Regions from separate parts of the Homo sapiens genome. Here region 2 is linked to region 1. Evidence: fine-mapped expression QTL. A gene starts in region 1. The other region holds a variant in brackets. All regions are shown on one strand. Distances are from middle to middle.

Region 1 (16,960 bases):
TGCCCACCCAGCACCAAGAACAGTGCCTGGCACATAAGGATTCAGAAATACAACAAGCAAGCAAAAAGAATAAAAACAGAGTAAAAGCAAGCAAGCGAAAAAGAAACTGAGACCCACAGAGATAAGTCAGAAAAGGAAGCAGCAGGTATTCCAAATCTATGAAACCATGAGGTCCAGTGCTATTTCTACTATGTTGTTACCCTTCTAGACTCATGTCACCACGATCCTGAATTGTTAACTATTTCATGTCTCCTTCCCTGTTCCAGAAAATACTTATGCTCTGTTCTCAATGACTGGTGCCTATTCTCCCAACTTCAATTCACTTTGATCACATTAACAAACCTCTAAAAGTTGGGATTTTAAATTTTTGTATAAGGATAAGCTCTAGGCCAGGTGTGGTGGCTCATGCCCATAATCCCAGTGCCTTCAGAGTCCGAGGCATGAGGATCATCACTTGAGCCCAGAAGTTTTAGACTAGCCTGGGCAACATAGCAAGACCCTGTCTCTACAAAAAAAAATTACAAAAATTAGCCGGGCTTGTTGGGGCATGACGGTAGTCCTAGCTACTCAGGAGGCTGAGGCAAGAGGATCACTTGAGCCCAGGAGTTCGAGGCTGCAGTGAGCTATGCTCGTGCCACTGCACTCCAGCCTGGGGAACAGAGCAAGTCTCTGTCTCTAAAAATAAATAAGTAAGGATAAATTCTAGATGTACTATTGATAACGGTTTTGCTGTGTCCCCAACCAAATCTCATCTTGAAGTGTAGTTCCCATAATCTGCACATCGTGGGAGGAACCTGGTGGGAGGTAAATGAATCACGGGGACGGTTACCTCCATGCTGTTCTCGTGAAAGTGAGTTCTCACAAGATCTGATGGTTTTTATAAGGGGCTTTCCCCACCCTTTGCTCTGCACTTCTCCTTGCTGTCACCTTGTGAAGAAGGACATGTTTGCTTCAATTTCTGCCATGATGGTAAGTTTCCTGAGGCCTCCCCAGTCATGCTGAACTGTGGGTCAATGAAACCTTTTTCCTTTATAAATTACCCAGTCTTGGGTATGTCTTTATTAGCAGCATGAGAACAGATGAATACAATTACATACATTTTACATATATTAAATAGTATGTAACACTAACCAAATCTGTGGGTTCATCTTCTTCTACCTCGGCTTCATCATCTTCATCCTCAATTATGGAATCTTCTACTGTTTCTTCATCCTCTGTAAGATCTTGTGCCACTGCTAACAAGCCTAATGATAAAATACAGAAAAAGCAGTTACCCTTTACTCTGAAATACTAATTTCTTTTTTTAACATCAGGTATAGGCAAAAAAAACTTCCCTTGGACTAACAGAATCTCCCAGTTCACCTGAATGATGCCAATTACAATGCACCGAAGAATATTTATATTTTAGTTTACTAGTAGTCTTAACAACTGCATATCAATTTTTTTTTTTTTTTTTTAAGAGTCAGGGTCTTGCTCTGATGCCTAGGTTGGGAGTACAGTTGTGCAGTCATAGCTCACTGCAGCCTCAAACTCCTGGGCCCAAGTGATCCTTCCACCTCAGCTTCCTGGGTAGCTAGGACTAGAGGCGTGAACCACTGTTCCCTGCCTTCCATGTTATTTTTAATGGGAAATGTGGTTTAACTTCAAAAAGTGCCCAACAGATGGAAAAATGAATGGCACAAACTAAAGATGCCTTGAAGCACAAAGAACTTCAAGCAACTTTGTTAAGCAAATTAAGGAAAATAATTTTTTGCAAAGATAAGAAACTTCTAAATGTAATCCCTGTCATTAACCATACAAAGCAAACTAAACAACCCCCACGTTTAAAAGAAAACAGCATTCTTGGCCGGCGCGGTGGCTCACGCCTGTAATCCCAGCACTTTAGAAGGCTGAGGAGGGTGAATTACTTGAGGCCAGGAGTTCAAGACCAGCCTGGCCAATACAGAGAAACCCCGCCTCTACTGAAAATGCAAAAATTAGCTGGGTGTGGTGGCACACACCTGTGGTTCCAGCTACTCCAGAGGCTGAGGCAGGAGAATCGCTTGAACCCAGGAGGCAGAAGTTGCAGTGAGCCAAGATTGTACCACTGCACTCCAGCCTGGGCGACACAGCAAGACACCGTCTCAAAAAAATAAAAATAAAAAAATAAAGCATTCTTAAGTTCTAATGTTCTATGTAGGAAACACTGTTATCAGAGGTGACTACAGCTGAAACTCTTAGAACTGGATAGTTTGTAAGCCAAGGAACAAATATCTGTAATCATATCCATGGTAAAAACTGGCTTGCATGAAAAACATTGTTTAGTAAAAACTGTATTGGTAGCTTCAGGTTTGATAGCAAAGAAAGAATCCAATTATTTTTGCATGTGGCTTCAAACATGTTTTAAGATATTTTTTCTCAAACTTAGTGTTACAAAGTACAGGTATAATGCAAAAAAAAGGTGAATCACAGTTTTATAGACAATAGTACTCTAAGTAAGTCACATTATATCTATTTCAGGCAAGACCATAAAAAGAATTTCAAAGTTCTAGTGTCTTCCAACATCTCTCAGAAAAAATGATGATGTGGCAATTCTGTGGATAAAAAACATGGGAAGGGAAGCGTGTTTTCACCCAGGAGAAACAGTTAAGGACCATGCATTTGCAGTCTTTTCCATGTCTTTAAGTTCTCACTGGCTGCTAAGATTTATTGCAAAATATTAAAGAACACTGAACCATGCATTATGAACTAAAGAGATTTCACTGCCTGCTGAACAAAGCCTAAAATAGTGCATTCATAACTTACAAGTCCTTTTCAAAAACCAGTAAGAAAAATACCATGTCTGATATAGTAATTTAAAGTCGTGGTTAAATTTGAGCACTTTGGAATATAAAGGCCTTTCATAAATATTAAACAATTTTATTATTTTAATGTTAACCAATAACAATTTTGTCCCCATGAAGTCTAACAGTCTTCATTCAACTGGAAAAACCAAACACAAAAACCGTTTCTCACAAAAAATGTTTACAAGATATTAATTCAGTTTAGATAATGAATTCATGCTTCTTGAAAGTTTTTATAACTTGAAAATAGTTATAAATAGTTCTAAAACTAAAACTACATTTGTCAAGTTTTCTTTTAAAAAGCTTAAAGAGTACCAGCAAACGACTCCTAAAGTAAAAAATCTTGTTAAACCTGCAGATTAACTCATTAACAGTTGTTTAATTCTCCCACTTGGTTTTCTAGCCATTAAACAGAAGCCAGTCACTTCACTTTTCATCGCAAAACAACTCGTGAATACCTGTCACTACCGTTAAGACACACAGCTTGCTTAAACTTACAGAATGAAAGGGATGCTTAGTCAGACTAATTATTTCACTTTACAAATTAGAAAGTCGAAGTTCACGACAAAACCTGTGCAGGAAGTCAAGTTGCCATATTTTTATATTCTGCTAAGTTATTTTCACACTTAATTGCTGGGTTAATTGTTGAAAGAATAAATCTATGTATTAAAAACACTCGAAGTAGGCCACATTTTTTCAGCACAATACGATGTTTCCACAAACAAAAAATTGTTCCATGGAAAGACAAGAAGAGGAAGAAGGCAGAAGGGAGACATCCCACAGGGATTCTTCAGTCTGCTTGGCAGCAGGGGCGGATAACGGGGGTGACGATGGGGTAGTTTTTCTGAAATCAAGCCTCCTAGTAACACATACGGGTCAAGCAGGGCGTGAACAAGGCAGATGACCATTGAACAAGACACTCTGATGGCTTAGATGTGTAGAAAACAAGGGTTTTGGCAAATGAATGAAGACGGACTCCCGGCGTGGAAGCTAAAGACACGTCAGCCCTGAGCGCGAGGGGCTGGGGGTGGAGCGGAGCCGGAGGTGGCCAAAAGAAACAGCCCGGCTGCGGCGCGCTCGGAGCGCAGCCGTGTCCAGCGCCTCCTCCTGCAGCCGAGGACCCTCCAGTTCTGGCCGCTCCTGCAGGCGAGGGTCCAGGGCAAGAGGAGCAAGCCCAGCCCTCGGCCGGCCACGAAGCAAGGTCGCCCGGGCACGGCCCCGCGCTCCGCGTGCAAGGGGCAGGCCGCAGCGGGGTCTCCAGCGCCCGCGGGGACCCCTGCTGCTACGAGCCTAGGCTTGGGGAGAGGGCGGAGAGAGGCCAGCGGGGTGGACGCGGACCCCAGGACCCGGAGCGGCCACCGCCTCCAACTTCAAACTTGCCATCACTGGCATCTCCTTCCTGGCCATCCCCTCCGCACACTCCCCCAGCCTCACCTCTGGGGCCGCCTCGGAACAAGACAGTGGCAGGGAACACGAGTAAGAGAAGCAGCAGCAAGCGGGGGAGGAGTCTCATGGCGCTGCCGGTCCAGTGTCCAGTTTCCGTCGGCTAAGGCTCTCGGCGGCTCCGGCGGTAATGGCGTTACTCTTCATCCGGGCTCCGGGCAGCGAGGGGCGGGACACGTACCGCGCACGGGCCTTTGCCACGCCCCTCCCTGGACCAGGGACCGCCGCCGACGTGGCTGCTCAGCGCGGAGAGGTGGGGAGAGCAGGCCACCGGGAAGTCACGTGGCCGGCTGCTGCCTCTTTGTGGCTCCCGCGAGAGTCCGCCTTCCGCCGCAGTTGCGACCCGGCAGCTTGCGGTTAGCCGTTCTTTCCGCCCAGTTCTTTACTTCCAATTAATTAGCATTGTCAGTGGTTACTTTATTTGAATGACGATCCTCTTGATAACGGCGATGTAAGGAACATGAGCTGCCTTTATGTGGCACTTAAAAGCAAAAAATTTTGTTGGAAGAGAGGACATTGTTCAAAGGAAAAACCATGAAAATACACAGTGGAAAATCTTTGTCCCCTGTCTGCCCACACCCTCTCCCATGGTTAAGTAATGACAATTCTTAAATTATTATTTTTGAGACGAAGTCTTGCTCTGTCGCCCAGGCCAGAGTTCAGTGGCACCATCTCTGTTCACCGCAACCTCCGCCTCCCGGGTTCAAGCGATTCTCCCGCCTCAGCCTCCTAAGCAGCTGGGACTACAGGCGCGCACCACTACGCCCGGCTAATTTTTGTATTTTTACTGGAGACGGGGGTTTCACCATGTTGGCCAGACTAATCTCAAACTCCTGACCTCAGGTGATCCACCCGCCTGGGTCTCTCAAAGTGCTGGGATTACAGGTGTGAGCCACTGCGCCTGGCCAGCAATTCTTAAATTCGTATGTGACATTCCAGAATTATAAGTCACCTAAACAGTGTTTTGGTATGTAGTCAGCATTTGTAACTATACAATAGGTGCAGCAATGGCTGTCCAGTTTTCTTTAGTTTCCTTTTCATCTATTTTGGATTTGAGTTGCTGGAGTAATATAGCAGTTCATGAAATTAATCTGAATATTAAGTAATCTTGGTCTGGACCAGAGTGAGATGTCATAAAGATGAGGAAATAAATCATATGCTTACTATTGTCAATCACCTCCTTAGAGCTGTGCTTTTTCATTTAATTTTCTAAACCTCTCTATGAGCTGGATATTATTTACTGAGGAGAAAACAGACCCAGAGAGGTTAGTAATTTACTCAAAGCTTCAAAACGCTAGCAAACGGCAGATGCAAGATTTGAACAAGGCTATCTGGTTCCAGATTCCATACACTACTGACCTAGGACATTTGCTGTTCTACTCCTGCATTGTTTCCGCTTCAGGTCTCCTTGTCCTGGGGGCTGTAAATGCAGCTTGGACCCACTGCCACCACTACCTACAGTCTGCTAAAGTCACAGCCTGATGGTGCTGGGCTGAATCAACCAAATTCCACTCTGCCAGGCCACCAGTGGCACCGCTGCTGTGTTGCTGCTGCTACTAGGGCGCCCAGCATAAGTGGAGGGCCTCCTCTCACTTTGCTGCTGCCTCTGCTCCTGTGCACGCTACCAGTGTTGCCACTCTATGTCAGAGCTGTGTCTGGAATAGGGTTCTTGGTCTCACTGACTTTAAGACTGAAACCGCAGACCCTCGTGCTGAGTGTTACAGTTCTTAAAGTCCAGAGTTTGTTCCTTCATCATGTTCGGATGTGTTCCGAGTTTCTTCCTTCTGGTGGGTTCATGGTCTCACTGGCTCAGGAGTGAAGCTACTAGACCATCGCAGTGAGTGTTACAGCTGTTAAGGTGTCCATTCCTCCTGGTGGGTTCATAGTCTCGGTGGCTTTAGGAGTGAAGCTGCAGACCTTCGCGGTGAGTGTTACAGCTCATAAAGGCAGTGAGCAGCAGCAAGATTTATTGCAAAAAACAAAGCTTCTGAGAGGTGACAGCATGCTGGCAGTACTCAGCCCTCGCTCGCTCTCGGCGCCTCCTCTGCCTGGGCCCCCACTTTGGTGGCACTTGAGGAGCTCTTCAGCCCACCGCTGCACTGTGGGAGCCCCTTTCTGGGCTGGCCAAGGCCGGAGCCAGCTCCCTCAGCTTGCCGGGAAGGTGTGGAGAGAGGCGTGGGCGGGCGGGAACTGGGGTTACGCGCGGTGCTTGCCAGCCAGTGCGAGTTCCGGGTGGGCGTGGGCTTGGCGGGCCCTGCAGTGGGAGCGGCCAACTGGGCCAGGCGGGGGGCAGTGAGGGGCTTAGAACCTGGGCCAGCAGCTGCTGTGCTCGATTTCTCACCGGGCCTTAGCTGCCTTCCCGCGGGGCAGGGCTCGGGACCTGCAGCCCACCATGTCTGAGCCTCCCCCAACCCCATGGGCTTCTGTGCAGCCGGAATCTCCCCGACCAGCGCCACCCCCTGCTGCACGGTGCCCAGTTCCTTCCACCACCCAAGGGCTGATCAGTACAGGTGCACAGGCATGGGACTGGCAGACAGCTCCACCTGCAGCCCCAGTACGGGTTCCACGGGGTGAAGCCAGCTGGGCTTCTGAGTCTGGTGGAGACGTGGAGAACCTTTATGTCTAGCTCAGGGATTGTAAACACACCAATCAGCACCCTGTGTCTAGCTCAGGCTTTGTGAATGCACCAATCGACACTTTGTATCTAGCTACTCTGGTGGGACCTTGGAGAACCTTTGCGTCCACGCTCTGTATCTAGCTAATCTAGTGGGGACGTGGAGAACCTTTGTGTCTAGCTCAGGGATTGTAAACGCACCAATCAGTGCCCAGTCAAAACAGGCCACTCGGCTCTACCAATCAGCAGGGTGTGGGTGGGGCCAGATAAGAATAAAAGCAGGCTGCCCTGAGCTTAGCAGCGACAACAGGCTCCAGTTTCTTTCCATGCTGGGAAAATATCTGTTCTTTTGCTCTTTAAGCTCATATTGCCTTTATGAGTTATAACACTCATTATGAAGGTCTGCAGCTTCGCTCCTGAAGCTAGGGAAATCACGAACCCGCCAGGAAGAATGAATAACTCAAGATATGCCACCTTAAGAGCTGTAACGCTCACTGTGGAGGTCTGTGGGTTTACTCTTGGGCTAGTGAGATTACAAGCCCACCAGAAGGAAGAAACTCCGGATACACTGCCTTTAAGAACTGTAGTACTCACTGTGAGGGTCTGTAGCTTCATTCTTTAAGTCAGGGAGGCTAATGAGCCCCCAATTCTGGACACTGGAGTGGGACCTGAGCAGGTTGCCACTGATTCAGGCAGCCTGCTTTTTTTTCCGTTTATTTGGCTTCACATTCTGCTGGTTGGTTTATTTTAGAGCTGATTGGTGTGTTTTCAATTGGTGAGCTAGACACAAAGTTCTCCATGTCCCCACTGGGTTAGCTATACACAGAGTGTCAATTGGTGTGTTCACAAACCCTGGGCTAGACACAGTGCTGATTGGTACATTCACAATCCCTTAGTTAGACATTCTCCAAATCCCCACCAGATTAGAGTGCCAATTGGTGCATTCACAAACCCTGAGCTAGATACAGTGTGCTGATTGGTGTGTTTATAAACCTTGAGTTAGATACAGAGTGCTGATTGGTGTGTTTATAATCCCTCAGCTAGGCAGAAAGATTCTCTAAATCTCCACTAGATTCAGGAGCCCAGCTGGTTTCACCCAGTGGATCCCACACCGGGGCTGCAGGTGGAGCTGCCTGCGAGTCCCGCGCGGTGCGCCAGCACTCCTCAGCCCTTGGGTGGTCGATGGGACTGGGCGCTGTGGAGCTGGGGGTGGCGCTCGTCGGGGAGGCTCAGGCATGGTAGGCTGCAGGTCCCGAGCCTTGCCCCACGGCGGAGCAGGTAAGGCCTAGCGAGACATAGAGCACAGCAGCTGCTGGCCCAGGTGCTAAGCCCTTCACTGCCCGGACCCGCTGGCCGCTCCGAGTGCGGGGCCCGCCAAGCCCACGCCCACCCGGAACTCGCGCTGGCCCACAAGCGCCGCGCGCAGCCCTGGTTCCCGCCCGCGCCTCTCCCTCCACACCTCCCCGCAAGCTGAGGGAGCCGCTTCTGGCCTTGGCCAGCCCAGAAAGGGGCTCCCACAGTGCAGCGGCGGGCTGAAGGGCTCCTCAAGCGCTGCTGGAGTGGGCGCCAAGGCCGAGGAGGCCCCCAGAGCGAGCAAGGACTGCCAGCACGCTGTCCCTGCTTTGAGGTGACTGTACCTTACAGAGTTCTCCACTGACTCAGCATAATCTCCCTCCCCTACTTTGAGGCACCCTTTCATGAGTTTCAAATGAGACCTGCTCTGAGCTTGTTGATGTCTGACAGGTGTTTTGACAAATACATCTTTCTGTTTAACTTGCTACTCTCTCCTAACACCAAAAACAATTGATGGGAACTGTAATAGATGGTGAAGTTACAGACTTCATGCTGTACTCAAAATCACACCTGCTCTCCATCACGGCACCACCGTGTCTTACTGGCTTGCTTTCCCCATTCAGAGGACTGATTACTGAAGGGGACGACGTCTCATTCTTTATGGTAAAGAGATTCCTAGTAGGTCTGTCTCACCGGTTCTCAGATGTTTAGACGTAGCCTGAACATGTAAGGATAATTTAGTTTAGGCTTAACCTGTGACTTCCACTCCAATGATGATGTCATCAATCGATTACTATCGGATTTTATTTGGGACTTGAATTTTACACAACCAGCTACTATTGGTACAACAGGAAAAATAAAGTGTGCCTACTCGAGATATTACTGATGTGATGAATTTAGGGAAAATAACATGTAAACAGAAAACAGAAGACCTGTGTGACTGTCCAATTAGTATTAAAAAATGACAGCTGTGATCAAGGAAGTAAGGGGCTCACCCTGACCAGTGTGCTCACCAATTCTGCATCACTGTGATCCACATTCTTCCCGTAATAAGCAGCTTTTCCTTGGTGCCCACCCAGAGCTCTCTGCCCTACTTGGTTCCAATCCTTAATTTATGGAATTATGAATTCCATTTACTAATTTATTTAAGTCTTTCCAAATCTCTCCCCATGTCTGTACCAATCTCTTTGAAGGGATTTCTTTTCAGGGAATATTCCATATCCTGGTGACTCTCCTTCACAGACCTCAGACAAATCCGTAGTTGATTCTCCACATCTGTCATTTCATTCCCTTAGAATGTGTAAAAGCAGAGGATTCTTTCCCTTTGATTACTTAAGATTTCCCTCCACATCACTCACAAATGTGTTTGTTAAGTACTCGTGTTTGTTCTTTTATACCCCCACCAAGTAACTGTGTGGCCAAGAAACTCCCTCATGTCCTTTATTTTTTTGAGATGGAGTCCTGCTCTGTCACCCAGGTTGGAGTGCAGTGGCACAATCTCGGCTCATGGCAACCTCTGCCTTCTGGGTTCAAGCGATTCTCCTGCCTCAGCTTCCAGAGTAGCTGGGATTACAGGCACCCATCACCACGCCCGGTTAATTTTTGTATTTTTAGTAGAGACGAGGTTTCACCATGTTGGTCAGGCTGGTCTCGAACTCCTAACCTCAAGTGATCCACCCCCCTCCCCTCGGCCTCCCAAAGTGCTGGGATTACAGGTGTAAGACACTGCGTCCAGCCGCTCATGTCCTTTAAATCTTTGCTCAACTGTCACCTTCTCAGTGAGGCTTACCTTGACCTCTGCTTTAAAATTCCAACCCTCCTGCCCCCACATTCTCCATTTCCCTCTGTTCTCCTCTTGTTCATAGTACTGGTTATCTCCTCTCACAATATAGTTCAGCCTGTCTCCTGTTGGTCACCTGTGAACATCTTGTGGCCAGGGAGTTTGTGTCTTAATGTTATAGAAGGGTGCCTGACAACCAGTGTGAACTCAGTAAGTATTTGTTGAATCAATGAAGGTATAGTGTTGTTACAAGTCACATCTTTCCTCCATAAATTTGAACCCAAGTTTGATTGTAAACCTAATAAGAAATGAAAAAACATTGAGTAAAAAACCCCAAAAACATTATGTTTATTATATATAAGCAAACGCTTAAGCATTCTTTCATGTAGCAAGGGCAAAAAAAAAAAAAAAAAAAAAAGAATTAGCTTTTGTGAACTATACCTCCAAGGAAAAAAACTCCTTTATAATCCTTATGAAAAGAGGGCACTATGGGAAAGGAAACAAGAAATAAGAACGACTTTAAAGGGAGTGCTGGCTCTCCAGCCCACCTCCTCACTTAGGAAGGCCTCCAATCCTTCCCCAGCACATACTTCATAGAAAAGAACAGATGAAGTCATAACTACCTGATCAGTCACCACAAGACCCCCCACTTACTTGCATCCTTGTGCTCAGGCTCTGCCTTTTTTTTTTTTTTTTTTTTTTTGTGAGATAGGGTCTGGCTGTGTCTCCCAGGCTGGAGTGCAGTGAAACAGTCATAGCTCATTGTAACCTTGAACTCCTGGGTTCAAGTAAATCCTCCTGCCTCAGCCTCCCAAGTAGCTAAGACTACAGGCACACCACCATGCCCAGCAAATTTTTTTTTTTGTAGAGATGGGGTCTCGCTATGTTGTCCAGGCTGGTCTCCAACTCCTGGCCTCAAGCAATCCTCCCACTTTGGCCTCCCAAAGTGCTGGGATTACAGGTATGAGCCATCAGTCCTTTCAGTTACAATAAAACGATGTTTAGAGGCCCATCAAAGGCCAACCACCATTTGTGGTTTAGATCCCATCTCCTGCTCAAGGACATGAGATTCTGAAAATAGCCCCCTCTTTTCTCCCTCACAATACATTTCTACTTCTCTAATTCATTATTTGAACATCAACAGACAAATATAATATTCCCTGTCTTTAAAAAAAAACTCTCTCGGCCTTGGTTCCCCTTCAGCAATAGTCTAATTTCTCCGCTCCCTGACACAGTAAAGCATCAGTATTTTACCCCTCCATTTTCTTCTCAGTCTATTCCAACTGTGCTCTTATTTTTAACACTTCACTAAAATTTGCTAGGTCTAATGGCCCTCATGTGAGCCTTTCCTCCTCTCATTCTTGAGCACTTGTTTCTCGAGGCTCACCGACATCCATGCTTCTGGTTTTCCTTCCACCTCAGCAACCCCTCCTTCTTCTCTGCTTGGCACCTAAATATAGGCCTGCTAGAATGGGCACACTGTCTACTCTCTGTGTCTACAGGTTCTGTATTCTTGGATTCAACTGACTGCAGATCAAAAATATTGGAAAATAAATAAAAATCAGAACAATAAAGATACAAATAAAAGTATAACAGTTTACATAGCATTGATGCTATGTTAGATATTATAAGTAATCTAGAGCTGATTTAAAGTATATGGAAGGGTGTGTGTAGGTTATGTGCAAATAGTATGTCATTTTTTTTTTTGAGATGGAGTCTCGCTCTGTCGCCCAGGCTGGAGTGCAGTGGCACCATCTTGGCTCACTGCAAGCTCCACCTCCAGGGTTCACCCCATTCTCCTGCCTCAGCCTCCCGAGTAGCTGGGACTACAGGCACCCGCCACCATGCCTGCCTCATTTTTTGTATTTTTAGTAGAGATGGGGTTTCACCGTGTTAGCCAGGATGGTCTCGATCTCCCGACCTTGTGATCGACCCGTCTCGGCCTCCCAAAGTGCTGGGATTACAGGCGTGAGCCACTGCGCCTGGCCAAATAATATGTCATTTTAAGGAACTTCAGCACCCGCAGATTTGGGTATACATTGGGAGTCTTGGAACTGGTCCCCCTCGGATACTGAGGGATAACTGTACTACATAAGGCTGGGAAACTCACCTGCTTATATTCTGTAAGAGGCCTTAGAGGACACTCCATTTACCAAAGCGATGAGAAATGCACTGGTGAGAGGGGCTGAGAAGAACATTGGTCAGCTGTGCTCTGGAGGTCTGGGCTCAGGGCAAGAGATGCCGTAATGGAACTGCACTGACAGCAGTGGGAGTAAGGATGGGAATGGAGGCCAGACGGCATCACCTAATGGTCAGCAACAATGTGGGCACACTGCTCACAATTCTGCAGGGTCAGAATAGGGGAGAGGGGCTGGGGAACGGGCAAGGGGAGTAACCTGTAGAGAGTTATGGTAATAGCTGATAAAACGCCTTCCTAGAGGCAAGACAGATGGGCACCCAACAACAGCATTGTTTAGTTTATACAATTAAATAAATCAAGAGGCCGGGCGCAGTGGCTCACGTCTGTAATCTCAGCACTTTGGGAGGCCAAGGCAGGTGGATCACGAGGTCAGGAGATCGAGACCATCCTGGCCAACATGGTGAAACTCCGTCTATACTAAAAATACAAAAATCAGCCAGGCGTGGTGGCACGTGCCTGTAGTCCCAGCTACTCGGGAGGCTGACGCAGGAGAATTGCTTGAATGTAGGAGGTGGAGGTTGCAGTGAGCTGAGATTGTGCCACTGCACTCCAGCCTGGAGACAGAGCGAGACTCCATCTCAAAAAAGAAAAAAAAGAAAAAAAGAAATCAAGAAAAACCAGGAGGCTGAGGGCAGTCATCCCAATAAAAAGTTTTGATACTGCTGTGGTCTGAATGTGTCCCCTAAAATTCACATGATAATATTATAAGAAGAGGAGCCTTTCGGAGGTGATTAAGTCTTGAAGTCAGAGCCCTCATGAATGAGATCAGCAACCATATAAAAGCTCTGGAGAGAACTAGCTAGGCCCTTTTTGCCAGTCTTGATTTTTTATTATTATTAGTTTTTGAGACGGAGTCTCACTTTGTCACCCAGGCTGGAGTGCAGTGGCACGATCTCAGCTCACCACAACCTCCGCCTCCCAGGTTCAAGTGATTCTTGTGCCTCAGCCTCCTGAGTAGCTGGAATTACAGGCATGCGCCACCATAGCCAGCTAATTGTTGTATTTTTAGTAGAGACGAGGTTTCACCATGTTGGCCATGCTGGTCTTGAACTCCTGACCTCAAGTGATCCACCCACCTCAGCCTCTTGAAGTGCTGGGATTACAGGCACAAGCCACTGCACCCGACCTGCGTTCTTTCTGCCATGTGAGGACACAGCATCCATCACCTCTGGTGGCCACAGCAACAAGGAAGCAGAGAGCAGCCTTTACCAGACTCCGAACCTACTGGCACCTCGATCTCAGATTTCTAAACTCTGAGACTGTGAGAAATAAATTTCTGTTCTTTTTTTGTTTGTTTGAGACAGAGTCTCACTCTGTAGCCAGGCTGGAATGCAGTGGCTCAATCTCGGCTCACTGCAACCTCTGCCTCGCGGGTTCAAGCGATTCTCCTGCCTCAGCCTCCCGAGTAGCTGGGACTACAGGCGTGCGCCACCACGCCCAGCTAATTTTTGTATTTTTAGTAGAGACAGAGTTTCACCATGTTGGCCAGGATGGTCTCCATCTCTTGACCTCGTGATCTGCTTGCCTTGGCCTCCCAAAGTGCTGGGATTACAGGTGTGAGCCACTGCGCCCGTCCTAAATTTCTGTTCTTTATAAGTTACCCAGTCTCAGGTATTTTGTTACAGCAGCAGGAACGAATTTAGACAGCTCCCCTTCCTCCACTGGGCCTGACCCAATTATCAATCCCAGAACTGAAGCAGAAGTCAGGTTCCTATGACAAAGAGCCCTGAAGCACCACCACAACTGCCATTTAGTATTGAATACCACCACTACTCCCCTCCGCAGCCAAAATTAAAAATTAAAAATACAAACCAATCACATCAGTGGGGAATGGTAGAGGTGTGTGTCACCTTCAAAGGGGTGGTGGTCTGTGTTAAATCCCAGTTTAATTTGCCAGCTTGCCCCTGCAAAAACTAGATAGTTCATAGGAGATGACAGCAGAATACTAAAACTTTCCCAGGTAGCAGCCCCGATGCCTCAAGCTCAAACACAGCAGTTGATCACAGTTTGTCCTACCAACCCTTCTCTTGGATGTTCCCCAGGAAGAAGATTGATCAGAATCCTTGGGAAACATGGGGTGGGAGCAGTGACGGACTGCAAATAGGATGGAGGAAATTTGGGGATGGGGTGATGGAAATATTGTAAAACTAGATTGTGGTGATTATTGCATGACTATATAAATTTGCTAAAAATCACTGAATTGTATACTTAAAATAGTTGAATTTTACAGCACATAAATCATCCCTCAATAAAGGGAAGAGTATAGAAAATACATTTATTGGTGGTAATAACTTGTGTATTTATGTACTATAGGTTTTATGCCTCTTCTTCCAGTTACCAACACTCTTTCATTAGGGGATCAAATCCTCCCATCAAACAAGTGGAGACATGCCCAGTGGAGCAGCTTTGCTGTGAAATTTTGAAAATTGAAAACTCTTCTCCCAGCACCTTCTTTGGCCCTTGGCCCCATTTATGATAAGAATCCTCCACTGTATTATAGTGTTGAATTTTTACCATATTGTGCCCACTAGACTTTTATAAAAATATATTCTAATTGTTCTTCATGCACATTTAACCTTGCTAAATACAGGATGATCTTTGTCCAGTTTCACACCTTACCCCTAAGGTGCAATCATAATTCATACTAATTCCCAAAGTCCTTTGCAGTTTTTTTCAGACTGGATCTGCTAGATTTGAATTATATAGGCGGCTCACTCTTACCAAGAGTTGCATTTATATAGGCGAATGTTAACGATCTTTGAAAGATAGAACATAATATACAAAACATTTATATCCTTAAACAATATTAGCACAGTCCTGTAACTCTTCTTAAACTAGAGTGACTATGAACTTAGTTTCCTAAAACAGATGTTATGGAGGAGCCAGGGTTTGAATCTGAATCTTATGATTCCCTGTCGAGTGCTCTTTTTCCTATTCCGTACTATCTCTCCTGCATTATAATTTAGGGAAGAATGTGCTAAGTGCCATTAAAAAGTCAGATAAAACAGACGAAAGAGGCATTTCAGATGAGGATGAGGGTGAGATCTGAATTAGATCTCAAAGGGTACAAATGTTTTAAATATGAGGTACTGCATGGTGGATGTGAAGAAAGGAGAGCTTTTAGTGGGCAAGGAAAGTGCATTCCCAAAAAAGGAAACAATATGGGGAAAGGCACAGAAGTTTGGGCCCAGAGCATGGAAGGCAATGAACACTGACTATGGAGTAAGGATTTGAAAACCTGTCCATAAAATATATTTAAGTGAATTATGACACATATCCATGAAATATTATACAGCCTTCAAAAATCAGAGTTATGAAGACTGGAGATACAGGAAAATAGCTATCAGAAACACTATGAGTTCAGATAACCTACTTAGGATAGTGTGTGAAAGTGCCTTGTAAACTGCAAATAACAATTTTTGGAAGGTTTATCATGGGGAGTGAAAAGAGAGGAACCATGATAGCTTTAGAAAAGAAAAGGGTTGCAGGAAGGATATTTTTTAAAGGCTAGGGTAGGGTTCAATGAAGAGTTATAAAGGAAGGTGTGAGAAGATACAAATGATTGCCGGAGCAAATCCTCAAGGAGATACGATGGGTCAGAGTCAAGAGGACAAGAGACCAAACAGACCAGAGGAAAAAAGAGGAAAGTGCGTAAGTCCACAGACGGGAGAGGAAACTGCGTCCCCATGCAATCTCCTGTGGTGAGAGCCAAAGCTTTACTCTGTGAAGGCAGAAGCTGTGGCTATTTCCAACTTTCACTTCTCTCTTCCGTCCCCCTACTACAAGAAGAGAGTGACACTCCCGGCCATGAGCTCCCTCAACTTACTACACCACGGCTTATGTTTGCCCTGAACATGCCTGTCCTGATTTCAGAGGAAGAGCTGTCCCTGTCCCTAGGCTGTGCTGTGGAGCCTAGTCTCTCTTTTCTCCTCTGACATCTTGCTTCATCAATGATCCCTCTCTCTCCTTGATCTTCAGTCTCTTCCCTGATCACTTCTCAGCATATACATAACTGCTTATGAAATACCTCCACTCAAGATGCTTCACAGCTACCTCAAACTCAGGGTATCTCTCCTTACAAACCAGCTATCCCTCTGGTCTTCTCTACATCGTTCATCCAGAGCTCTTCTAGGCTTCCTAGACCCTTCTCTCTCCACTCCCACAGCTAACTAATAACCCCATCCTTTCCATGACAACAATAATAATAGCTTTTATTTATTCACCACTTCCTTCAGGACCAGATATATACTCTACATATATTTTCATCTCGTATTTATCTAATTTAAGTGCAAAACTAACTTTAGTGAGATAAAATAGTTTTTCTCTTCCACCTAAGGGGTGTGTGTGTGTATATATATATATTTTTATATGTATATATTATATATATATATATATATATATAATTTTTATTTTTTTTTTTTTTGAGATAGGGTCTCACTCTGTTGCCCAGGCTGGAGTGCAGTGGTGAGATCTCAGTTCACTGCAGTCTCTGCCTCCCAGGTTCAAGCAATTCTCTGGCCTCAGCCTCCAGAGTAGCTGGGACTACAGGCACTCACCACCATGCCCGGCTAATTTTAGTATTTTTTTTTAGTAGAAACAGGGTTTCAACATGTTGGCCAGGCTGGTCTCGAACTCCTGACCTCAAGTGATCCACCTGCCTCGACCTCCCAAGGTGCTGGGATTACAGGCGTGAGCCACCGTGCCCAGCCGTAAGGCATATTTTGATCAATAGCTATACCTCCAGTCCGGTTCTGGGATTTATCAAAAGGATAATATGTATGTTATATACATTTATTTTTCTAGTGCAT
Region 2 (10,800 bases), 33 kb before region 1:
AACTCCTGACCTCAAGTGATCTGCCCACCTCAGCCTCCCAAAGTGCTGGGATTACAGGTGTGAGCCACTGCGGCCAGCCCAAGGTAACTTCTGATAGTGGTGAAGATAATGAGAACAGAGCAGGGTGTGTGGGGCCTTCCATGAGGGGAGTTTTCAGGAAGACTAAGAGCAGGGAAGATGGGGGCTGAGACCTGGGCAGAGGGGATTACTGCCAAGGCCCTGATCCTGGACAAGCCTGGCAGGGTAGAAGATGAGGAGGTGGCTGGCCAGGAAGCCTGGAGGGCAGCACAGGAAGGGGCAAGGCAGGGAGGGCGAGATACTGGAGAGCCCTGCAGGCAGTGGTGGAGCACTTGTGCTCACCTAGATGCCAGTGGAAGCCAGAGGAGAGTTTCCAGAAGAGAAGAGTCAGGATCTGATAGAGTGGCTTGGACTCTTGTGGGCATAAAGCCCGAGAGGCAAGGGGGTGGGGCAGGAGTGGCTGCACTGAGCACTGGCCTGGCACCAACTCGGCAGCAGAGAGGAGCTCATGTTTTTACAAACAGCAAAGAGAAAGGCTGAGTCCCTGAAAAGGAGAAATACTTTCAAGGGTTTTCTATTAAGAATCTATCTTGGGGCCGGGTGCGGTGGCTCACGCCTGTAATCCCAGCACTTTGGGGGGCCAAGGTGGGTGGATCACGAGGTCAGGAGATCGAGACCATCCTGGCTAACACGGTGAAACCCCGTCTCTACTAAAAATACAAAAAATTAGGCGGGTGTGGTGGCGGGCACCTGTAGTCCCAGCTACTCGGGAGGCTGAGACAGGAGAATGGGGTGAACCCGGGAGGCGGAGCTTGCAGTGAACCGAGATCACGCCACTGCACTCCAGCCTGGATGACAGAGCAAGACTCTGTGTCAAAAAAACAAAAACAAAAAAAGACTCTTATCTTGGGCTGGGCGCGGTGGCTCACACCTGTAATCCCAGCACTTTGGGAGGCCTAGGCAGGTGGATCATCTGAGGTTGGGAGTTCAAAACCAGCCTGACCAACATGGTGAAACCCCGTCTCTATTAAAAATACAAAAATTAGCTGGGCGTGGTGGCACATTCCTGTAATACCAGCTACTAAGGAAGCTGAGGCAGAATAATCGCTTGAACCCGGGAGGCGGAGGTTGCAGTGAGCCAAGATTGCGCCATTGCACTCCAGCTGCGCAACAGAGTGAGACACCGTTTAAAAAAAAAAAAAAAAGAATATCTTGATTTTCTTTCACTATGTAGTGACAATGCATCCAAGTTTTAAAAAGTGGCTCCGTTTCTTTTGGGGCCACAAATAAGCTATCCACAACCACTGGATTTATTATACTCATTGTAGGAGGCTCAGATAAATTTCACATTTGCATTTATTGCTTCCATTATAAAATATAGGCTCATTACAAACATTCTGAAGAAGAAAAAAAAAGTCCACTATCCTAACCAAAAACGGCTTTAGCATTTTGGTGTATTTCTCTTCAGACTTTGGATTAATCCAAAGTTTAATACTGAATGTTTCAAGCATTGCAGAGAAGACGTAATGCTGGTTCTTACTGCCCTAATATATTTTTTCCTAACTCCCCAAGCTTGTTATGCTCTAGTATTTTTTATTCTTCAAAGCATTTTTTCCTCTCAGCAGAAAAAGCTAAAAACATTATTATCTGGTAACAAAGACTGATTCTCCAGAGTTTGCACAGCCTCTAATTAAAAGTTACTTTTTCTATGAAGAACACTTTAATTCTACTGCTTAGAATACAATCTTGAAGGGAAAGAAATCTTAGGTGCTACTGACTTACTGGCTGGGTATACAGATGAGAAAATTACATCAAAGATCCATCTCGGCTTCCTTAGAAATGTTTAATAAGCGATCAGAGTATGCAGTCTGTGCAATTATTGGGAATGGAAAGTCAGTATGGGAGTGTGGATGGGGTAGACCTTACTTACTCATATACCTGCGTGAGGGGGAGTGTCTTTATGATCATCATCTGAAAAGCCAACTAGCTGACAGCCCAAGAGTGCCTGTAAAACCAATCTTAAATCACCTTTATTCTAAAACATCACTGAAATGTCTAAAAATGTGTGAACTTTTTTTTTTTTGAGACGGAAGCACCCAGGCTGAAGTGCAGTGGCGTGATCTCAGCTTACTGCAACCTCTGCCTCCCGGGTTCAAGTGATTCTCCTGCCTCAGCCTCATGAGTAGCTGGGATTACAGGCGCGTGCCACCACGCCCAGCTAATTTTTGTATTTTTAGTAGAGACGAGGTTTCACCATATTGGTCAAGGTAGTCTTGAACTCCTGACCTTGTGATCCATCCACCTCAGCCTCCCAAAGTGCTGGGATTACAGGCGTGAGCCACCGTGCCCGGCCAAACTTTTAAATAATTTCCAGGAGGACATTCCGATCAAAATTGTGATTTTTTTTCTTTTCTTTTTTTGCTTCTATTTTGGATTCCTCGTGCGTCTTGAGACCAAGCAGGAATATGCACTGGTACTTTAGAAAACATTTCATGTTGCACACAAATACTTTCATGATCAGCTTTAATTTAAGGGACATGTAAATAAAAAGATGCATTTGACAGGACAGCAGACTAGTTCAAGCAGGAGGTTAGACCAGTAACAACAACCAAGAAAGCAAAGTGCTCGTTTCCATCTTGGCTTTACCACACTTACAAACTGATACCCAAATAACAGAAATGTTTCTCAAAGCTGCACAAGAATTTTAAGGATTCATGACCCCACTTTCATTAAATAGTCCCAGAAGATAGCTAAATAACATTTTCAGATAGAACCTCACACTGCATAAGTTTCATAACAAACAAACCTAAGATATGCTGACAGAAATCACATTGAGTTTGCAAGCACTCAAATAGAAAACCCAAGACCTCCGGCAACAAATTAGAAAATATGAACAGAAATATTTTAAACCACAAGTATTTCATCCCAACTAAATTCCAATTTCTTCAATGTTCTCTGAGTTGTTAGATTTCAAAGTGAAGAGAACTGAAATCTCTTTTTATTCATAGCAGAGCCAAAACTGGAAGTCACTTATTAAATACCTGTGTACAAAACACCATACTTGGGGCTATATGCGATTTCAGGTTGGATAAACGAGTCATGTTGAATGACAAAAAGTTAGACTGGGGAGATTTATGGAGAGAAGCAAGCACCTGTGATTTGTTGGTTTGGCGTTACAATAAACACTGTAAGTGAAAATGAGTCACAGGCAGTTAGAATGGCGTTAAGGAAACCATTTAGGTCTAAAAATCAGGACTGAAGTGATCAACAGTTAACAGATGAAGCCATGAGAACTGGCACGCTCTGGAAAGGCTGGTGCAGAGAGCAGGACGGTGAGCCTGAGTGAGCCTGGAGTTAGTCAACAGATTCCTCAACAGAAAAGGAGTGAGGAGCAGGGTCAAAGAAATGAAGGTGAATTTGGGGGGTGGTGGTCAATGGGTTAAACGTACAAGTTGAGGCCGAGGAACTGAGGCTGAAGAAGGTTCTGGCAAGTGGAGAACCATGAGATCCTGACAGAGCAGGCTTTTGTGGGCAGAAGCCATATTAGAAGAAGAGCTAAAGGAAAGCTGAAAACCTGGCGACGAAAAGGAAGCCAAGAACATAGGAGATATTTTGACAAAACGGAAAAACAACAGAACAGGAAGTGAGGCAGGAGAACCACAGAGATGGAAGCCAGGAGGTGTCCAATTAGACGGGCACAAGAGAAAAACAGCCAGAGACCGAGAAAACGGCGGGAAGGAAAGGTTCCATCTGGAGAAAAAAGCCTCTCAAGACTGGAAGGGACAGGAGCTGGTGACCATGAAGCAGTTCAGACTCAGCTCTGAGCCCCTTGTGTGGACCACAAGCAGCACTGCAAAGTCCTCGCTGTAGAGAGAAGACCATAGATGCACACAGACGGGGTTATCCCTTGAAACCAGATCCGGGAAGCCATCAGTCAAAAAGCCTGTGTGGTCACAGATGCTTACTGGTGGTTCCTGAAATGAGTATTTCTAGGCAGGGGGCTTCAGTATAAACCAGATGTGTGCTAGCTGGGTGGACTTCAAGTAAGGAGTCAAGACAAAACACTTAGAGTGACCTTTTGGCCACTGCTGTGTCTGCAGGCTCAGCCTCCTCTAGATCTGATTCCCACAGTGGAGGGACAAAGGGCCAGCAGCTTGTAGGACCAAATGAGAAAAATACATAATCATTATGTTTTAGCCAGAAAAAGGCAACTTGATTATGAACTGGATGACATATCAAATGCAAGGCCTTAAAATGCATTCACTCTAATAAACTGCTCTGTAGAATTCAAGGGAATGAAATCCGCTTCTCATACGTACCAAGGACCAACTGCTTTGAATCTTCCACTGTGGATGATGGCAACTGGTCCTTTTAGGAGAGCCATTTTCCAGACAGTCTTGTCTTTATTTATTTATTTTTTAATTGTTAGTAGCTTTTACTTATTATTTATGTACTTATTTTTTGAGACAGTCTCACTCTGTCACCCAGGCTGGAGTGCAGTGGTGCAACCTTGACTCACTACAACCTCCTCCTCCTGGGTTCAAGTGATTCTCCTGCCTCAGCCTCATGAGTAGCTGGGATTACAGGCGTGCACCACCTCGCTCGGCTAATTGTTTTTGTTCTTTTTTGAGATGGAGTCTCGTTCTATCTCCCAGGCTGGAGTGCAGTGGCACGATCTCAGCTCACCACAATCTCCACCTCCCAGGTTTAAGCAATTCTCCTGCCTCAGCCTCCCAAGTAGCTGGGATTACAGGCATGCACCACCACACCTGGCTAATTTTTGTATTTTTAGTAGAGGCGAGGTTTCACTATGTTCGCCAGGATGGTCTTGAACTCCTGACCTCAGGTGTTCTGCCCACCTTGGCCTCCCAAAGTGTTGGGATTACAGGTGTGAGCCACCGTGCCCGGCCTTTTTGTATTTTTTAGTAGAGATGGGGTTTCACCATGTTGGCCAGGCTGGTCTTGAACTCCTGACCTAAAGTGATCCACCCACCTCAGCCTCCCAAAGTGCTGGAATTACAGGAGTGAGCCACCATGCCCTGCCCAGTCTTTATAAATGAAGCTTGACTCTGGACTGTGATAGCAGAAACAAATACAGGCAGTGCCTCAGAGAATACAAAATATCAAGCAAATCCTAAGTGTTGAAGCTAGAACCCAGGTGAGTGCACTCTGCATTACTGAGAATGTGCTCCCTGCCAAAAGGCTCCTACCCTATTCCAACCAAGCCGGAAATGGCAACAGACCAAACGTGAGGAGTGAGTGCCTCTGTGCTCCTTGAGGCTGTTTCATTACAGATAACAAGGTTACCTAGGGCAGTTGTGAAGATGAAATGAGGATGTGTGTGGAAGGGCAGAGCAGATGCTTGATGTTCTCCATCTGAACACTACTCTTGACCACAGTATTTCTCATTCTCCTTTCTGAAATGCCTCTAGGCCTTAAGCGCCTATTTCTATAAATGTTGGGTGATCAGACCAATATGGTTTCTGAAAAAACTGTTCAGAAATAGACTAATTTTCTTTGGGTGGTTCAGTCTGATGCTGAAATAAATTGCAAGATGATTTTCAAAAATAACATGAACCCCAACAGCTTCACTGAGAAATATGGAGCCTCTTCAAACGTGTTTTTAAAAAGAACTGGATGTGCAGGTGTAAGAGATTTATTACAAAACAAAAACTCCCCTTGCCAGCCTTATTACTCTGGCTCATCATTAAAATCCAGTGCTAGCCATATTACATGCCCATCTTAAAACTTTTATCCTTTAGTTACAAAAAGAATACTATGTAGCTTACATATTCAGAATTTACCTACTACCCCACCACATCAAAGTCCATAAGGTACCATATACTCTTCCCCGCCCCATGCTTCATGGGATGTTATTACAGTATGGTGCTTTACAGCGAAAATGAGAGCAGTCACTTAAGCGGCTTACTGAGACCCAGGCAATGTTCTAAGCAGCTACACACAGTAACTCCTAACAACCTTAGGAGGCAGGAACCAAAAGCTGAAGCATCATACAACTTGCCTCCAACTAAGAGGGGATCTGGGGTTCAAACCCAGGCAGCCTGACATGAGCGTTTCCTTTTTTTTTTTTTCTCTTTTGCTAAGTAAAAAGTAGGTTTAAGGGAAGAATCATTTATAGTAACACTGAATTAAGTAAGGGTTTGTAGGTCACAGAATCAGACTATTTAGGGCTGATACTTCAAGCATATCTCAATTAACAAAAAAGCACATTGAGACTCCAAGGATGAACTGCCTTTGCTTAGTGGCCAGGGCACTGTCAAGACCCAGAGGTCTCCTAATTCCCACGCTAGCACACCATACCACCCCTTTGTTCAACCTCACAGAATTGCCAATACTAGCGTATCACCAGGAATACTTACGAACCATACTAACTCACATGGAAGAATGGCAAATGAAAACTGGCCCACATTTTCTTGTTCCTTCTTCAAAGAGTAATAGGGTTCTACCTAATTGTGAACTAGAAGCTGGGGATGAAAAACAAGCCAGATACAGAGCTCACAGTCCAGAAGGAGATGTCAACAAGATGACAGGCTGCCATGGGTACTGACAGAAGTCTACATAAGGGACAGCAGGGGAACAAAAAAAGGCACAGTCAAAACATCTTTGACTGCAATTTGGAGACTTTAAACAAGGATTATCCTTTCTACAGGCATACTGAATTTTCTTTTTAATGCCTCACTGTGCCTATTAAGCAAAATCCGTAATACAACACACCAGACAGAAGCCTTACCCTGTGAGCCGGGCGCAGTGGCTCACGCCTGTAAGCCTGACACTTTGTGAGGCCAAGGTGGGTGAATCACTTGAGCTCAGGAGTTCGAGACCAGCCTGGCAACATGGTGAAACCCCGTCTCTACCAAAAACAAAACAAAAACATTAGCCAGGCCTGTGGTGTGCGCCTGTGGTCCCAAATACTTGGAAAGCTGAAGCAGGAGAATCGCTTGAGCCCAAGAGGCAGAGGCTGCCGTGAGCTGAGATCATGCCACTGCATTCCAGCCTGGGCAATACAGTGAGACCCCATGT[CA/C]AAAAAAAAAAGAAAAAGAAAAAGAAAAAAGATAAAAGCAGCTTTACCCTGTAATCTTAGTTCTAGTACTATCTGGTTCTGTAACCCAAGAGCAGATACTTCACTCTTACCTTTAACGTGAAGATTTATCTTTCAATCCTTTAGAGCTTGAAAATGCAATCAACCCATGAAAATGTTTTTAAAGACCATGATTCTGTTCATCAAGGAGACATTTAAAGGTATGTCATTAACAGAAATTTAAAAGGGTATTGTGGGTAACTGAATTATCATAGATACAATACAGCAAGTATATATGGTATATTCATTACTGAGATGATTTGAACTTTCCATATTCAATATGGAACCTTGAGCAAGCTACTTAAATTCAGGTTTTGTCTATTCCATCTACAAAATGGGAACAGTATCACCTTCCTTCAGTGAGCTGTCGTAAAGGTGTGTGATATGATGACTAGAAAACAAACAGAACACAGCACGTGATTGATGTTTAATAAATGAGTTCCCTTCCCCCTTTCTTAAACTGCAGCAAAGTGGTACCCAAACCTAAGAGCTATTATCCCTAAATTTCAAAATCTAAAAAAAAAACCTTAGAACCTCAGATGATATAATTAACATAAAAGCCCAGGTTTTTGTATAAATGAAAAGGGATAAAAATTCATACAAAATCCATTAGTAACATTCATAAGCACCCGAAATAAATTATTTAGATGTTTGCAAGTCAGCTGCAAGGTGTTCTTCCTCCTCAAATATCCTCTAAGGATGAGCTTATAGACAGATTAACTTAACAACGAAACCTAACATTCCACCAGTAAGAATCTTGTTTGTGTGTGAAGCTGCTTTTTACTAAGTTGGAGGTAAGAGCTCAAAGTAGAGTTTTACTTAAGAAAATTGGGGCAAACATTGATTTTAGTTCTACAGCTATAAAATGATGCCATTCAAAAAGTGAACAGTGGGCCGGGCACAGTGGCTCACGCCTGTAATCCCAGCACACTTTGGGAGGCCAAGGCAGGCGTATCACCTGTGGTCAGGAGTTCAAGACCAGCCTGGCCAAATGACGAAACCCCGTCTCTACTAAAAATGCAAAAATTAGGCAGGTGCGGTGACGGGCGCCTGTAATCCAAGCTACTCAGGAGGCTGAGACAGGGAGAACTGCTTGAACCCAAGAGGCAGAAGTTGCAGTGAGCCGAGATCGCACCACTGCACTCCAGCCTGGGTGACACAGAGACTCCGTCTCAGGGGGCAAAAAAAAAAAAAAAAAAAAAAGTACTATGGAAGTACTTAAGTACATCTGAAAATGTTTTTAAATTTAAACATCTAATTTAGGAACTAAAATACAGGGTCTAGTCTTGGCAAGAGATGGTATGTGTCACTGAGTTTTAAAAAATTATTTCAGTATTCAAATGCACAAACCAAGTCAATTTTCCTTCATATCAAGGGTATGGATATCATTGTACAAGATGAATGCTATATATGAGGCTCGCCTATTACTATATTGATCTACTGTACCTCGAAAATAACACATCATTAAGTAAAGGTGGCAATGTTACATTACCACCATTTACTTCTCCCCAGCACAGCCATGATACAGTTCTAGGCTGATGTGCCACAAATGCACTTTTAAGGCAGTAGTTCTTCCATATTTTTTAAGGTCTAAATTTGCCCTTTCCTCTTATCAAAATCACATTTTCTGAAGGTACTTGAAGTTAAAAACCTTATTACTATCAAGTGAAGCTTCTTTTCTTCTGATTTCTACTTTACTCCTTCCCTGAGGCTTCTACTTCTGAGGTCCCATTTCCTTTTCCTCTCCTGGGACAATGCTTTAGAGGGCAGATTAGCCCTGAAAGTCACCAGCTATGTAAGACCATGAAGTAAATGAGGAAGCTATACAACCAAAGCGAGATCCATGCTTTATGAACACATTATTCTCACACATCCGGGGATAGGTTTGATACACAAGATCCTTAAAGTCATTTTACATATTCTGAAACCAAGTTGTTCAAAAGATGAATTCTGAAAACATAGTTGGTGTAGCAAATGAATATATCAAAACAAAGAAAAACTTCATCCAAATATTTACATTTTAAAAAGACATTTAAAAAATAGGCTACTTATTAAGTGTGCTTGAACAAACCATGTGTGGAATTGAATTCCATTCATTACGGAGTTAGTTTCTGCTAAATACTTACTGATGCTAGAGCAGACCCCTGGCATCTGAGGATTTAAGAGTTCAACTGTTCTCAATCTATGCTAAAAAAAAAAAAATGACAAATAATAAATTCTACATTTCCGAGGCACTAATTTGAACTTCAGAAGTGGGAGGGCTGATATGTAAGGCAAGTTATTTAGGAATGAGGAGGGCTGACAGCTGTAACTCAGTGTGGTTTTGCAGCTGCCTACGTTAGTACCAGGTATTCCATAAAACTCTGTAGAGGCCATTTACATTTCGTAAATTCTGTAATTACACCTTACTGTATCATGCCCTAGTAGTTTCACAAACTTAGATATTCACAAAAATGTTTTGGAATATATTCCTTGGGAATGTGAAGGGTCTCCTATATTACATTAAACAAAAAACCATGCAGTTACTTAGAGCTCATAGAGCTTTCTCAAAATCAACTACTGATCATAACAGCCCAATTAAAAACTCAAACACTTTATATTACAGATATAGAGTTTATAATCCAGCAATGCCAATATAGGTAATTTGATAGCCCCTATTTGCAAAGTGATTAACAATTATACAATAACTTCTATCTGCTTTGGCTCAGATGTTTAAATACTTAAACAGTTTGGAAAGACTTTTTTCTGTGTGTATTTCGTTTTGTTTTTTTGTCTGTGTGGGCATGAGCATAGGGGAGGTTATACTGAAAAGGAGAATGAAGAGGTCAGGAATTAAAGAGCCACTAAAATTTGACTTAACATTTTCTTATAAAATACATGTAGGAGAATATGGCTTAAAGACAAGAGGGGGAGAGCCTCTTAATTGTTCATACTATTTTACTTCACCCTCCATCCAGTCTGACAATAATGCCAAACTTAATTTACAATCTAGGGCAAGAGTAACTCTATAAGAGGATTTTATGAAGTACAATTTAATTTTGGTTCCAGTCTCAAGCACTTAAGAACAATTTTTGGAATCTTTCAGGTTAACTAAAAAGGTTATATCAACAAGCAAAACTCCCAAAAGATTAGGTAAGAAAAAATTAGTTAACTGCTTTAAAAATATCCAACTCACTTTCTTCATTGATTAGGAGTAACTGGGAAATATCTCTGTCCTGATAACTTGGTTTTCTGCTTAGTGTGTGGACCAAGGCAACTTCTCTTTAAAAAGGATGCTTCTATTAAGGAGAGAAAAATTCTCTCTCAAAACAAAACAAAAAAACCTACACACAACTGAGTGAGTAGGTCTAAAATCACTCCAGAGCTACCTCTGGGTCAGAACTAGAGCAACAATGGACAACACAACACAATTTTCACAAATGTACTAGTTTCTTTTTGTTAAAAAAGGGGGTAGGATTAGGTTTCATATATTAAAGTCAGCAGAAATTTCATGTTTCACAATTTGTTGCCAGAGAGATCCCCAAATTCCTTGAAGCCACTGGGAAGTTTTCTGAAGATGCGCATTAAACAGCAGCAAAATACTGAAACAATTCTATTGCTAAAAAGCAGCTACTTCTGCTTCTGCCTTTAGAATACTAATTGTAATACAGTAACAACAACAAAATGCTGATTTGTGCCATCAA

Alleles and levels. Positions count from the first base shown, and alleles are read on the strand shown. Sizes are in standard deviations (SD) of each study's normalised expression.
For the expression in fetal neocortex of the gene that starts at base 4,414 in region 1, C is the low allele of the variant in region 2 and CA is the other (small effect, 0.37 SD a copy in Walker 2019).

What was found.
Region 2: its variant is fine-mapped to the expression of SSR1 in fetal neocortex (Walker 2019, PIP 0.95).

The regions. Positions count from the first base shown.
Region 1 is chr6:7,308,786-7,325,745 of GRCh38, forward strand. SSR1 (signal sequence receptor subunit 1) reads right to left here and starts at 4,414. Exons shown (of 8, transcript NM_003144.5): 1 at 4,257-4,414; 2 at 1,132-1,244. The coding sequence starts at 4,335. RefSeq lists enhancers at 3,578-4,446, 4,447-5,313, 4,650-4,719, 4,730-4,789 and silencers at 3,870-3,919, 4,050-4,159, 15,812-15,921.
Region 2 is chr6:7,278,619-7,289,418 of GRCh38, forward strand. SSR1 (signal sequence receptor subunit 1) reads right to left here. Exons shown (of 8, transcript NM_003144.5): 8 at 2,525-10,800. Among named protein-coding and RNA genes, the nearest start is that of SSR1, 29 kb to the right of the region's middle. RefSeq lists a silencer at 3,124-3,324. The variant CA/C (reference allele first, on the strand shown) is at 7,060.